Linked DNA regions of Homo sapiens. The protein of the gene in region 2 interacts with the protein of the main gene of each other region in a pairwise test. Each region holds a gene or a part of one and is shown on either strand. Other genes may lie near its edges. The genes, in order: USP40 and ITGA6.

Region 1 (7,735 bases), about 61 Mb from region 2:
AGTACAATGGAACCCAATGTAGCCCTATTATTTAAAATACTATTCCAAAATTTCCCCCGCCAGTTCTCTGACAGTCCTTATTCTTTCCAAATTATACCTCCCTGTCAGTCACCATCAGGATTCAGGCTAAGCTATACAAGCAGTGCACATTGTGCACTAAGATGTCAAATCATATGCTTGGCCAGCAATCCCCTCTGCTGGAGAGGAAGTTGGCCTGGGACTCTCAGTACTACTCTTGCCTAATGGTACGCTCCATGACCCGCCCTACACTTCACCATCTTCCTCAGTCCCTTTGAGGCTACGTTTCTACTTCGAGTTGTCCTTTAACTTCAACTATATTAAAACCTGGAAAAGTGTTATCCCTATTAGAAATGTACTTATTAGTGCTGGCAATTTTTACTGGTGGAATTACTGATTGCATCAGGGAGATATTTTTATGGAGGGGATCGAGTCAAGGCTAAGAGGTACCACTTAAATCCCACATGCAATCCAACCCATTAAATTGCTCCTAGGAAGGTAACAGCGGTAAATATTTACTAAATCTCTGGAGGCAGCAAGTCTTTCTAAGCTTAGAAGCAACAGAAGAACCACAAAGATTTGATAAATGTGGTGGCAGTAGGGAAGAGGAACATGGCAAACCAGATAGGATGAGTCAGGCTGTCTGTCCTCCTAATATGGAGACACTGTGGAGAGCTGAGCTACAAAGCCATGTAGTGCTGGGGACCCCAGTCAGGGCCAGGTGAAGGCAAAGTAATGTTCACACTGAGCTCACGGGAACACAGCTCCTAGGACCCTTGTGGAGGAAGCTGGTTTGCAGAGATGGGGTATGGGAGAAATATATAGAGAGAAACAGGGGCAAGAAATCAAGGGTCCAGTAAGGTCAGGCTGGCTTCCTGCAGTTGATTTCTGAGATCCCCTATATTCTTACAATAACCCCCCTTTTAAATTTAGCTAATTTGGGTGGTGGGTCTGTTTCTTGCACACAATCCCTTACCTAAAATCTCTGGGTCTTTGGAATTCAGAATTTCCAGAGTTTATAAAGATAATATGAAAAAAGTGTTTTTTATATATATATAAAATGTTACATTCCCAGCAGGGTCTGGGCCAGCTTCCATTAATCAAGCAGATTAATATTCCTGTAATGAATGTATGAACATTCACCCACATGAGATAACTAAAAACTGTAAATAGCCTCACACCAGGTCTGGTTCTGAAGCCAAACAAGCTCAGGTGAGATCAGATGAGGGTGTGAGCTTTCCAGATTTCAGAAATGCGTATGAACAACTGTGCACCCATATAAATAATATGACACCCTTCCCCACTCCAAAAGGTAGATATAATTGGTTGGATAACTCTGGCTTAAGTGTTTGTTATTCTAGAGAAATCTTAAAACTCAAACAGTGTAACAATAATGAAGACTGATACTTATGACAATTGTCTTTACGTTGTACTTTAAATTACAGGAATTAAAAAAGAAATATATTGCTTTATTTTTTTACTAAACATTATTGTCATCACCCAGGATATATTTAAGATTAAGCTTCACATTTCTCTGCAGAGGGAATTACCAATTTATATCTTATATGTGCAACAATAAACACATACTGTAGAATATATCTTTAAGATAATTGGTCTATTTGTGATTTTGCATAATTAATTACATGTAAAGAAGATGGTACATATTGCTAGTTAAATGTACGTAACATAGCATACCTCTGAATTCAGGTGTGAAATGAAGAGTCTGAAGAAGGGAATTGAGGTAACAGGTTCCACCCTGATTTCTGATTCCGCTTAAATTGGTGAATTCTCTAGGAGCAGGTGGCTCCAAAGCTTTAGTCTTTAATTTCTTCCCTTTTCCATACTGATTATTAGACACAGTGGAATACTCCTCTTCAAACAGGTCCCCAAACATTGTGAAACTAAATACTACCCTTAAAAAAAGTGACATATAAATGCTTTTATTTTTAAAATAAATTTTCCCCAAATCCCCCTACCTTACACTTGGGAGTCGATTCTGTTGTTTCTTAGAACACAGGACTACTGTTTCTATGTACAGTAGTTGGGTTTTGGAGGCAGCAAGATCTAGATTTTTTTCATCCCTATCAGGACCCTAACTACCTGTGTGACCCTGGATATGTTAATCTGTTTTCTTATGTGTAAAATAGGATACCATCTGTCTCTTCGGGTCATTTAAACTATCCAATGACATAACGAAAGAAGGGCAGTTAGTGTACAGGGTTTGGCCCACAATAAGTAACAGCTGTTTTTAAAAAGGCACGTTCACATCACTAATTTTTTTAAAAAAGAAAACCTGTTGCCACAACTAATCCACTGCTGGGACGGCAAAGCCAACCCTAAATTCTGAGAATCAACTCTCTAAAATCTCTGCTTGTCACACCCTTCAGTACTATATACCAGATTATGACATTTAAATTAAACAGATCAAGTTAACTTTTTTTAGAGCACTTTAGTACAGTCCCGAAGCTGTTGGGCCGGAAGTCAGTTCACTGGGGAGGGAGGGGGGAAGGGGAGCGGAGGGCGGGGAAGACTGCCACTAAAATTATCAAGCCTAAAGGCCTTCCAGTATGTATCCACTAATCCCATCGTTAGCCCTGGGGGCCTAGGTGACTTCCCCAAGGTTTCACATCGAGTGTGGCGGAGGGTCACTTGGAGATGAGAAACGTAAAGCGCCTAGCATAGGTACCAAATGACAGGAAGCGCTGAAATGCAATTATTTTTCTTTTCCTCAGAAGAAAACTAAAAAAACACAACTCGAGAGTCTAGCCTCGAGCTCGTTGTCTGCATTCCTGAATTCCCAACTCCTACGGCCGGCCGAGGCCCTCCAAGCCACCACAGGCCCAGGGGCGCAAAAAGGCAGAGGTCCCCGTGGCCCGAAACCACTGCCCCGACTCCAGGAGAGCGCCGCGTCCTCAGGCAGGCCTGGGCAGCCTCTCGCCTCGCCCTCCTCAGACTGGGCCACCAACACTGTCCCTACGCTTCCCACGTCCCTCCCAGGATCCCCGGGCGCCAGCCGCACTTACTGCCTAAAGCCCAGACCCCCGCCCTGGCCAAAACGCGAAGCGAACGAACCCGCCCCAACTGGGCGCCGCCATGTTGGCGAGGGCGGGTCTCCAGAAAGTGATTTATGGATCGTGGACTATGCTTCCCAGGATGCCCCGCTGGAGCGCCGGCCCCTCGCACGGGGCCTTATGGGAAATGTAACTCTTCTGCTCCAAGAGTTTGGGAACTGGAGCGGGAGCGGGAGCGGGCAAGGTGAGCTCGCTTACAAGTCCGCTGGTGAGTTCGCGGGTCCACTCGGCCAGCGGACCACTCATTCGTTCACATTTATAAGATTATAGCTATATGATCTTATATAAGATTATAGCTATATGATCTTATATAAGATTATAGCTATATGATCTTATATAAGATTATAGCTATATGATCCTTATATAAGATTATAGCTATATGATCTTATATAAGATTATAGCTATATGATCTTATATAAGATTATAGCTATATGATCTTATATAAGATTATAGCTATATGATCTTATATAAGATTATAGCTATATGATCTTATATAAGATTATAGCTATATGATCTTATATAAGAGTATAGCTATATGATCTTATATAAGAGTATAGCTATATGATCTTATATAAGAGTATAGCTATATTATAGCTATATAACCTTATATAAGATTATAGCTATATAACCTTATATAAGATTATAGCTATATAACCTTATATAAGATTATAGCTATATAACCTTATATAAGATTATAGCTATATAACCTTATATAAGATTATAGCTATATAACCTTATATAAGATTATAGCTATATAACCTTATATAAGATTATAGCTATATAACCTTATATAAGATTATAGCTATATAACCTTATATAAGATTATAGCTATATAACCTTATATAAGATTATAGCTATATAACCTTATATAAGATTATAGCTATATAACCTTATATAAGATTATAGCTATATAACCTTATATAAGATTATAGCTATATAACCTTATATAAGATTATAGCTATATAACCTTATATAAGATTATAGTTATATAACCTTATATAAGATTATAGTTATATAACCTTATATAAGATTATAGTTATATAACCTTATATAAGATTAGTTATATAACCTTATATAAGATTATAGTTATATAACCTTATATAAGATTATAGTTATATAACCTTATATAAGATTATAGTTATATAACCTTATATAAGATTATAGTTATATAACCTTATATAAGATTATAGTTATATAACCTTATATAAGATTATAGTTATATAACCTTATATAAGATTATAGTTATATAACCTTATATAAGATTATAGTTATATAACCTTATATAAGATTATAGTTATATAACCTTATATAAGATTATAGTTATATAACCTTATATAAGATTATAGTTATATAACCTTATATAAGATTATAGTTATATAACCTTATATAAGATTATAGTTATATAACCTTATATAAGATTATAGTTATATAACCTTATATAAGATTATAGTTATATAACCTTATATAAGATTATAGTTATATAACCTTATATAAGATTATAGTTATATAACCTTATATAAGATTATAGTTATATAACCTTATATAAGATTATAGTTATATAACCTTATATAAGATTATAGTTATATAACCTTATATAAGATTATAGTTATATAACCTTATATAAGATTATAGTTATATAACCTTATATAAGATTATAGTTATATAACCTTATATAAGATTATAGTTATATAACCTTATATAAGATTATAGTTATATAACCTTATATAAGATTATAGTTATATAACCTTATATAAGATTATAGTTATATAATCTTATAAATATGAATGAATGAGTGGTCACATTTATAAAGATATAAGATTATATTTATATAATCTTATATCTTTGTCTTTCGTCTGTGAATCAAACTAATGGCATGTCAAAGTATTGTCTGGACAATCCTTTCATTCCATAGCTTCCTCTCCTCCTATCAGATCCCCATGAAATCTCACCTGCATTAGGATGATAGCCTTTTCAGTGGACTCCCGTTTTACACACCCCTTCCTGCACGTCACTATAAGATGCACTATCCATCTAAGGTGCACTTTGAGCTCAAACCTCTCTGCTAAAGAAGCTTCCACGATTTCTCAACATCCACTGTGGAAATTCTTTATTTTGATTCTTAGTTCGCTGATGGTCCCAACATTCTTTTCATACTGTATTTCTCACTACACACCTATTTACCAAAGTGCTTTCAAATGTGCCATCTATAAAGCTGCTAATCCCTGAGCCTTTAAGGGAAAAGATAAACACCAGCTGCAAGTCTTTTTGTTTTATGATAAAAAGCCCTGTACAACGAAAACACTTTTTCTGGTTTGGTTCCATGAAAACCAATGCTCTGTCCCTGAAGTCAGGAAGTACCTTGCCAGTAAGGGACTTCCTTTTAAATTGCTTTTGATATTGGACAATGTCCCTGGCCACCCAGAACCCCATAGATTCTGCAATGAGAGCACCAAAGTGGCCTCCTTGCCCCTAAACACAACATGTCTAATTCAGCCCTTAGATCAAGGGGTCATAAGGAACTTTAAGGCTCATTACGTACGGTTTTCTATGGAAAGGGGTGTCAACACTATGGAAGAGAATCTCAACAGGGAGAATATCGTGAAAGTCCAGAAGGATTACACCATTGAAGAAGCCCATGTTGTTACAGAAAAAGCTGTGAAAGCCATCAAGCCCCAAACAATACATTAGTGCTGAAGAAAACTGCGTCCAGATTCCAGATGTTGTGTGTGAGTTCACAGGATTTACAACAGCCTATCAAGGAAGTCATGGAAGAGATTGTGGATATGGCACCAAAAAAAAAAAAAAGAGGCATAAAGTGTTTGAAGATCTAGATCTTGGGGAAATTCAAGAGTTAATAGATACCACATCTGAGGAATTAACAGAAGATGACTTGATGGAGATGAGTGCTTTTGAATCAGTACCAGAGAATGAGGAAGAAGATATAGAAGAAGCACTGTCAGAAAATGAATTGACATTAGACAATCTTGCAGAAGGGTTCTGATTATTTAAGACTGCTTTTGACTTCTTTTACAACTTGGACCCTTCTATGATACGGGCATTGAAACTAAAGCAAATAGTAGAAGAAGGATTAGTACTGTATGCAAGCATTTTTATTTATTTATTTATTTTTATTTTATTTTTTTGAGACAGAGTCTTGCACTGTCACCTGGGCTGGAGTGCAGTGGTGCGATCTTGGCTTACTGCAACCTCTGCCTCCCAGGTTCAAGTGATTCTCCTGCCTCAGCCTCCTAAGTAGCTGGGATTACAGGTGCCCGCCACCACGCCCAGCTAATTTTTTGTAGTTTTAGTAGAGATGGGGTTTCACTGTGTTGACCAGGCTGGTCTCAAACACCTGACCTCATGATCCACCCACCTCAGCTTCCCAAAGTGCGGAGATTACAGGCGTGAGCCACTGCGCACAGCTCAGGCATTTTTAAAGAATTGAAAAAGCAAAACTATCAGACAGTAATTATGATGTATTTCCATAAAGTCAAACTGAGTGTGCCTGTCTCTCCTGCTTCCCCTTCCACCTCCTCCACCAATTCCCCCTCTGCCACTCCTGAAACAGCAAGACCAACTTCCCCCTACCCCCACCCCTCCTCAACAGCCCACTCAATGGGAGACAGTGAGCATGGAGACCTTTATGGTGATACACTTTCACTTAATGAATAGTAAAGATCTTTTCTTTTTCTTTTTTTCTTTCTTTTTTTTTTTTTTTGAGATGGAGTTTCACTCTTGTTGCCCAGGCTGGAGTGCAATGGCGTGATCTCGGCTCAGTGCAACCTCTGCCTCCCAGGTTCAAGCAGTTCTCCTGGCTCAGCCTCCCGAGTAGCTGGGATTACAGGCATGCAACACCACGCCCGGCTAATTTTTTGTATTTTTAGTAGAGACGGGGTTTCACCATGTTAAGGCTAGTCTCGAACTCCTGACCTCAGGTGATCTGCCCGCCTTGGCCTCCCAAAGTGCTGGGATTACAGGCCTGAGCCACCGCGCCTGGCAGTAAAGATCTTTTCTCTTCCTTATGAATTTTAACATTTTCTTTTCTCTAGCAGACTTTATTGTAAGAAAAATACAGCATATAATACATATATTACACAAAATATTTATTAATTGACTTTATGTTATTGGCAAGGCTTCCAGCAAACAGTAGGCTACTGTAGTTATGTTTTAGGGTAGTCAAAAGTTCTATGCTCATTTTTGACTGCACGAAGTTGGTGCCCCTAATCCTCGCTTTATTCAAGGGTCAGCTGTAGCAGCAATGAACAATTGAAAATTGGAATGAAAATACCACTCAAAATAGCATAAAAATATGAAATACTTAGGGCTAAATCTGACAAAAGATGTGAAAGACTGTACACTAAAAACTACAAAACTTTAATGAGTGACCTAAATACACAGTCATGTTCATGAATTGAAAAACTCAAAATTTTTAAGATGTCAGTTCTCCCAGTTCATCTATAAATTCAATACAATCCCAACCAAATCCCAGCAGGCTTTTTTTTTGTGCAAATTGGCAAACTGATTCTAAAATTCTTATGGAAATGTAACGGACCTACAATAGCAAAAACAACAATGGAAAACAAGAAAAAAAAGAGAGTGAACACTGACTCATTTCAAGACCTCCTACAAAGGATAGTAATCAAATA
Region 2 (7,282 bases):
GTTCCATCATCTTCCAGAAGAAGACAGCACTTGAAGAGGAGACATCAGACCCAAGGTCTGGTCTCAGCTCTACTTGCTGGTCGGGTGACCCTGACGGGGAGATACCTTTCCTTGGATTCAGTTTTCTTATCTCAATTTGAGATTTGGGGACTTTAAGGGGACCAAGTGCCACAGAGTCAAAGAACAGAAGCCCTGAAGTCAGACAATTACAGGTTTCAATTGAGGGTCTCAAATTATATCCCCTCTCTGAGTCTGCTTCCTTGTTTGTAAAATGAGTACAATGTTTACCCTTGGCATTCTTCTGAAGTTTGAATGATAGAGTATAAAGTATCTAGTAAGCTGCAGACATTTTATTAAGGCTTCATTAATGTTAGTCCCTTCCCTCTAAAGTGTTCTCTGTCTAGCTCTGAAATCTCAGTGATTTTCAGAGTTGCTGATTTACAGTTATAGAAAGCTATACCTGCTGCCTTTATAGATGCAGAGAAAGGATCCTTAGGGAAGGTGTGGTTTATTTGAAAGTCCCTTATGATGCCTGTTGATATGTCCTGGAGAGACCGGGACAGTGCTGGTTGATACCACTTATCGCAGCAGCTTGCCCAGTACAGCATTTGTCTCAGGCAAATGTATCCTGGGGCTGGGTGCAGTGGCTCACACCTATAATCCCAGCATTTTGGGAGGCTGAGGCAGGCGGATTGCTTGAGTCCAGGAGTTAAAGACCAGCCTGGGCAACATGGTGAGACTCTGGCTATACAAAAAAAACTGAAAAATTAGCTGGGCGTGGTGGCATGCCTGTGGTCCCAGCTACTCAGGAGGTGAGACAGGAGGATTGCTTGAGCCCAGGCATTCAAGGCTGCAGTGAGCTGTGTTTGCGCCACTGCACTCCAGCCTGGGTAACAGAGCAAGACTCCATCTCAAAAAACTAAATAAAAACAAAAATGTATTCTTGCTTGGATAATAAATCGTAAGGACTGCTATATTTCAGAAAACAGAATGATTAGGGAGGCTCCCTGAATTTTCAGCTAGCTAAATGACTGAAGCCAGAACATTTCCATAAGTAGACTGGCAGATTAACTTAAGAACAGTAATTCACAGTATTTCTTTCTCCAGTCTCTTTTGCAAAACATTCCCATTCATTATTCCCACCATGACATGCAGTCATTCTGCCTCGAGATCTTTATACAAGTCCCTGTGGGTTCTAGACTCCCACAGGGAACCCCTCACTATTGGTTCACTACAAGGTTCTACACCTAGTCCTATTCAACATATTTGTCATTACCTGGATGAAGACATAGAGAACATGCTTCTCAGTTTTTAAAACTTTCAGGGATAGAAAGTTGAGAAAGCAAATGATGAAGCAAGATTCAGAATTACTTTGCAAACTGAAACAATGGACCCAAAGCAAATCACATAAAATGTAAGGATACACTTAAAGGCATACATTTAGATTTTTACAAATAGCTCAAGGACAGGATACTGGAAACACAGCTTGACAACAAATTCTGATGAAAACACCTGGAAGTTTCAGTAGAACACTAACACAAAAATAGCAGCTGCTAGAAATTCAAACATGCTGCTCAGCAATGGTTTGAAAAAGCAAATTTTAGGCAGGTCTGACAGAAGTGTGGTGCCGAGATGCTGAGAGGTAAAGGCCCCAGGGTAAGTGGGACCAAGCAGACCCCACCTCAGCTGCTCTGTCCACGTGGGAATCAAATTGCCCAGGAAGGGAGAGGCCAGGAGCCAGTTCAGCTGTGCCCAATGTGACGCATAACTCAAGAGCTGGGTGCATAAGCTCTGAGAAGAATAAGAAACATCCAAGGAGGCATGACCATTTCCTTCAATTATTTGAGAGGCTGCTACATGGCCAAGAGAGAGAACTTATTTTAGACTTGTTTGAGGGGCATAACCAGGGACTTACAAGGTTCAGTTCAGGAGTCAGCTATGAAGAGATCTTTTTTAATAATTACAGCTGGCCAAGGGATGGGCCATCACTGGGGCATTACACCAATGGCTGCAGCATTAGAGATGGTAGAAGACACAGGTTTCTAGAGGGCTGTGAGGTGCACCCATTCTCTGAATTGAGCCAGTAGTTCTCAAACCTACCATGGGCACTGCTGAACTGGATGACCCTAGATTTACTTCTTTTTTTCAATGATTCTATTAAAATACAGCTTGCAGTGCCAGTACCTTAAGACAGTTTTCTCCGTAATGGGGCTATGAGGGAAATGAGCACCAAAGCACATGACTTCAGGACATGAGTGTGGGGTACAGGGAAAAGAGACATGTTCTGAACCTGAATGAAGCTGGGGAACCTCTCACCTGAGTGCCTGCATTTGGCAGCCTGATATTTTCGGCAGCAGCAGTCACATCAATGAAGGCTCGCATGAGAATGTCCAAGTAGTTCAGTTTGGAATATTCCTGTTTGGAGACAGTGAATGCATTAGGGAAGTGAAAAGTGTCCTAGGCAAAGGCAAATTACTTCCATGGGACAGCCTCAAGCCAAGGTCATACCTCTAGAAATGTGCTGTTCCATAACCTCGAGCGCAAAATAAGAGACGCCTTGCTGTCCAGCCCCCGCAGCGGGCATCTGATGTTCACACAGTTCACGTTCACGCTACAGTTCTAGAGAGAAAAAGAAGAATGGTCATCAAAAGACATTGTTCTGAAGAAATCCTTCCCCTCATCCTCTCAAATATTCACAGCTCTTGAAAAATACTTACAAGAGTCTGGTATTTTCTTTCAGCAAATAAAGAAAATTTTCTGTTATCATCTATCTGTTTTTCAGTAATTTCCCGTTTCTTTCTTGAGTTGTGAGACTCCTGAAAAAAATTATATCCAAAATAGTTCCAATTTATGTAATTCTTTGTCATTACCATACAAGCCTCTTGAGCATATCCTCCCAAACAGTGCCAGATTCACATAATCAACAATATTTGCCTCTCTCCTGCCAAAGGCACAGAAGTAAGTGTAAAACCAGCAAGTATTATCACTCTAAATTCAAGTTTATTGATTTACTCATAGGACTAAGTAATTCATTCCCACTCTGACCTTAAAACTCAGAGAAAGAGAAATATGCTTTCTTTGTTCCTCTGTATCCCCACCAAACTGTGGGCATACTGAGATCAGAGATCAAATCTTATTCCTGTATCCCTAGCCTCCAGCTCTGTTCCTAAAACATGGTAGTCAGCACATCTTGAAGGAATAAGTGACACTGAAGAACAGAGAAAGAAGCAAAAAGACCCATTATATAGCTCATTCAGAGCAGAGCAATGAAAACTAAGCCATACAAGAACTTTTAAAATTGCATTTTCCTTATAGCAAAGATTAGTAATAACCGATTATCTTGATTTTTAACATTGATGAGTAGAAGATCATGCTATAAGCCACCAACTCTGATCACTGATCATACCCAGTCACCTTAGAATTTAAAATAAAAGAAATAAACATGCAAACCTTCATCAAACTGGAACACAAATGATAGGCCAGTTATCTAAGCATGGAGCAGTATAGAGAGAGGGGTTAACAGTACAGGCTTTGACATCAGGCAGAGCAGGGCTTGTATGTGGAATCTGTCTCTTAACGCCTGAGTGACTGAGAGAGTTACTTGCTCTCTGAATCTTAATGTCCTCATCTGTGAAATGGTGAGGATAATGAAACGCCCTCATAGGACCATCCAGAGAATGAAATGAGAAAATGAAAACAAAATGCTTAGCATAGTTCCTGAGACACAATGAGTACACAATAAATAATTACTATTTTAAAAATAAGCATAAAAAGCTTTCAAGGTTACTTGCTGAGATGCCATTATCTTTTCCAATGAGTTTGGTTCTACTTGGAGTGAACACTGGCTGGCCCCTGGATAACAGCAGCTACTATTACCCCAGGAGCATCCCCCAGTTCTCCTTATTATGTAACATACTGGGTCATGATGAAACATCAGAAAATACCATTTGCCTCAGCAAGCACTGAATGACTCTGCCTTATGTACTATAATGGTCATTAACCAGCAAAAATGCCTCAGCCTCCCTCAGTTACCCAACTAGAAAAGAGAAATTGTGACAACCAAAGAGAAAGTCAACCTGCCAGAATATGCCACTTTCCTAAGAACAGTAATGATTTTCCCCTAACAAGTTAGTTTCTCTAATTTGCATTTATGGAGACATTAGATAAATCTACCGACATACCGTTAGGTTCAGGGAGTTTATCTCCTTTTGTGGCTCACAAGTTACCTTTTCCAATCCTTTGGATTCTACTTTCACCAAATAAAGCAACCATTTCCCATTGCTAATTTCTTTTGGCCACTGAATGTTCAAGGTTGCTGTGCCGAGGTTTGTAAGAGGTTTACCTAAGTTTATTACCTGTTAGAAAATAATACATATTATCTCAGTCTAATCTTCTCAATGTAAATTTAAGTAGCAGCTCCTTTTACCAAGAGAAAGAAGCTAAAATATCTAACGTAATCCTATAATAAAAGCACAGGCTCCAAAAATGGACTATAGATAGGGCATTCAAAATAAAGACTTGTGCCTAAAGATTTTTGTAAATAAAAACAAAAAGGTCAAAGGACAACTGATAGCTAACTCGTTCTAGGAACAACTGCTGTATGCAACAGAATCAGCAGTGTAGATATACCATGTTCTCAACATACGCCCAGGGAAAATCATGTGTGAATTTGTGAACTGCCCTGTAACCACCCTGCTTGGCCAATGACAAGTCCTGGGCCAAGGCAGTGTACCAACAACCTGCTTCTGGAAAACCCCATCCACTGCAAAAATGAAGCTGCCTCTGTCCCAGAGGAGATTCTGCAAAACCATTATTAGGACAGCCATGAATCTGAGAGTCCAAGCTGGGAACAGAGTGACGTCCTGCGGCAGAAGCCAAACACAGGAGGTAAGAGCCCTCTTGGTGTCGAGACTGTTCCAGAACCCAAAGACTTCTTTTCCAGCTGCACCTGCATAGAGATCATAACCACCACCACCACCTGCCCCAGCTGTGTCTATAATGCTAAGAGACACACAGAGGAGAATTCAGCCTCTTCATTCTGCCGGAGTCAGGTGGGCCCATGCTTGCCATTTGAGGCTTTCACCACAGTGGTCACTATGCCTTCAGGAATGTGATTTCAGCCACACAGACCTAAACCCATGTGTGAGTTACGAACAGACTCTGTACCCTATGTTTATGTTTATTCAACAGGACAGAGAGTCACTGTGATTGCCTACTTTGAAATGGTTCAGAGCCAGTCACTGCCTTTCCTACAGGCATATACCAAATCTACATTCACCACAAAAACTGGGCTTGTGAAAGGTAGGCATACATTAATATTCTTTCAACCACAAGCAGTGAGAAAGATGACCTTATAAAGGAGGAAGGAATAAATCATAACGCATTCTAAACTGAACTGGATTCTGAACAGTGACAATTGTTCTCCATCCTGGAGGATAAAATTTTTACTATAAGCCAGTATGTTCTTTAAAAGCTGGCAAACTAATTTTTAACTCATGATTTACTTACAATGCTTATTAATATTGCTGATTTATTAAAATGACATACTCAAGACCATACCTAGTATATGTCAGCTTTTGGTATAATGAAAAGACCAACTGCTCCAACTTACCCTGAATTCATACTCTATTAAACTTCCCACTTCATCTTCAGATTTCATAGCTTGCTCGCCAACAACTGTACCTCCAAAATACACCTGGGAAGGTTTAGCAACTCTGTCAAATTAAAAAACACCAGTTTTAATGAGGATTGTAAATGGTTCTTTCAAACATTGATTTGTTATGCTAAACACAAACACTTACCCCGAGACCGATAAAAGCAGTTCAATAACCACTTTTGCTTTAGCTGTAATTGGAGCCAAATTATCTTGATTGCTTGTTCTGAAAATGAAAAGGAAACAATAGGGTTGTATTTTACCAGTCAGTTTTCTCACTACAATTAGACTTCTTTTATGAGGTAGATCAGGGCCAATTCATTGACTGCCCATATTTTCATGAAATAATTCTGAATGGAGAGGTTGATGTAACTCTTACGTTTCTAACTTCAGATTAATATCCAGATCTGGGGTGTCAAAGGTGACTTCAGTTGTACTTAAAACCAAATAAAAAGTGACCTAAAAAAACATAAATAGCTGTTAACACAGGCCATGCATACAGACACTGCAATGGTATTTAAAACAGTAAAATACAGTATATGAAGGCATCACCTACATTTGAATTTCTTTTAAAAGGATTTCCGAGCTCACAGTCAGCTTGCGAGCCATTCTGGTTGGCAACACAACTCAACTGTTTCTCCTGTAAAAGAAACACACGCTAGGTCACAATCCACTCATTTGCCACACAGTGTTGATTTTTTTCCCCTCTCAGCTGGTCTCTAACAATACTTACAGGGAAAGCCCTCAGTTCTCTATATGCAGAATAGGTTAAAGTGTCTGGAAACGTTGCAATCAGTTTAGCCTCATGGGCGTCATCGCCATCTTTTGTGGGATTCCTTGGGTTGGAAGGGCTGTTTGTCACTGTTATTTCTAAAGCAATATCCTTCTGATCTTTTAGAACTAGTTCTGGTACACCTTTTTGACTATTAAAAATAAGAAAACAAGAACAAAAAGGCAAAGTCCTCAATACGTTTCCAGTAAACTTTCTTAACACAAAGCCACCATGAAGCCAGAATCATTTTTGCTAGTGCTACACAACGATTCTTACATTGGTAAATAAGAAAATTTGTCTTGATTTCCTTCTCGGGTGCAAAATTTATATTCTAGTTTAAGGTTGCTGTTACATACATTGTCGTCTCCACATCCCTCTTTTAAGAAGTGAACCTGTAGGAAAACGAAAACTATTGTCAATTTACACCATTCAGGACTCAGGAAGGCATCGATGTAGGTGACTGGCTATTCCACACAGTTCATTTCCCTGTGTGACAATTACCAATGCAGAATTCAAGCTTTAAATGTACTTTGCCACACATCAAATTTCCATTCTGTCCTTTAGTAAAATTGTGTTTGAAGAACACTTTGACCAGGGCATGGAGGCAGTGTGGTATAGAAGAGTGTGACCCAGCAGCCACACAGATTTGGGTTTGAAACGCAGCTCTACCCCTTACTTAGCTAGCAAGTCACTTAACCTTTCAGAGTCCAAGTTTCATCATAGGTAACGTGGAGATACCACCATTCTAACTTTATAGGGCTACTATAAGAAGTATCAATAATAATGATGATACCAACGATTATAATACTCGATTTACATATCTTAACTCATTTAATCCTCACAACAGGCCTCTAAAA

Evidence for each region.
Region 1: the proteins of ITGA6 (region 2) and USP40 interact in a two-hybrid assay, tested with the Homo sapiens proteins (one study listed by BioGRID).

What each region holds. Positions count from the first base shown.
Region 1 is NC_000002.12:233,563,643-233,571,377, forward strand, and holds the start of USP40 (ubiquitin carboxyl-terminal hydrolase 40), read right to left. Parts: upstream 3,141-7,735; 5' UTR 3,042-3,140; exon of another isoform or gene 2,705-3,041; intron 1,932-2,704; 5' UTR 1,913-1,931; coding exon 1,714-1,912; intron 1-1,713. UniProt on the Homo sapiens protein: May be catalytically inactive.
Region 2 is NC_000002.12:172,486,558-172,493,839, reverse strand, and holds part of ITGA6 (integrin alpha-6 isoform b preproprotein), read right to left. Parts: intron 6,818-7,282; coding exon 6,702-6,817; intron 6,577-6,701; coding exon 6,387-6,576; intron 6,294-6,386; coding exon 6,210-6,293; intron 6,113-6,209; coding exon 6,033-6,112; intron 5,880-6,032; coding exon 5,802-5,879; intron 5,715-5,801; coding exon 5,612-5,714; intron 5,302-5,611; exon of another isoform or gene 5,191-5,301; intron 4,356-5,190; coding exon 4,182-4,355; intron 2,817-4,181; coding exon 2,718-2,816; exon of another isoform or gene 2,620-2,717; coding exon 2,509-2,619; exon of another isoform or gene 2,416-2,508; coding exon 2,317-2,415; exon of another isoform or gene 1-2,316. UniProt on the Homo sapiens protein: Integrin alpha-6/beta-1 (ITGA6:ITGB1) is a receptor for laminin on platelets. Integrin alpha-6/beta-1 (ITGA6:ITGB1) is present in oocytes and is involved in sperm-egg fusion.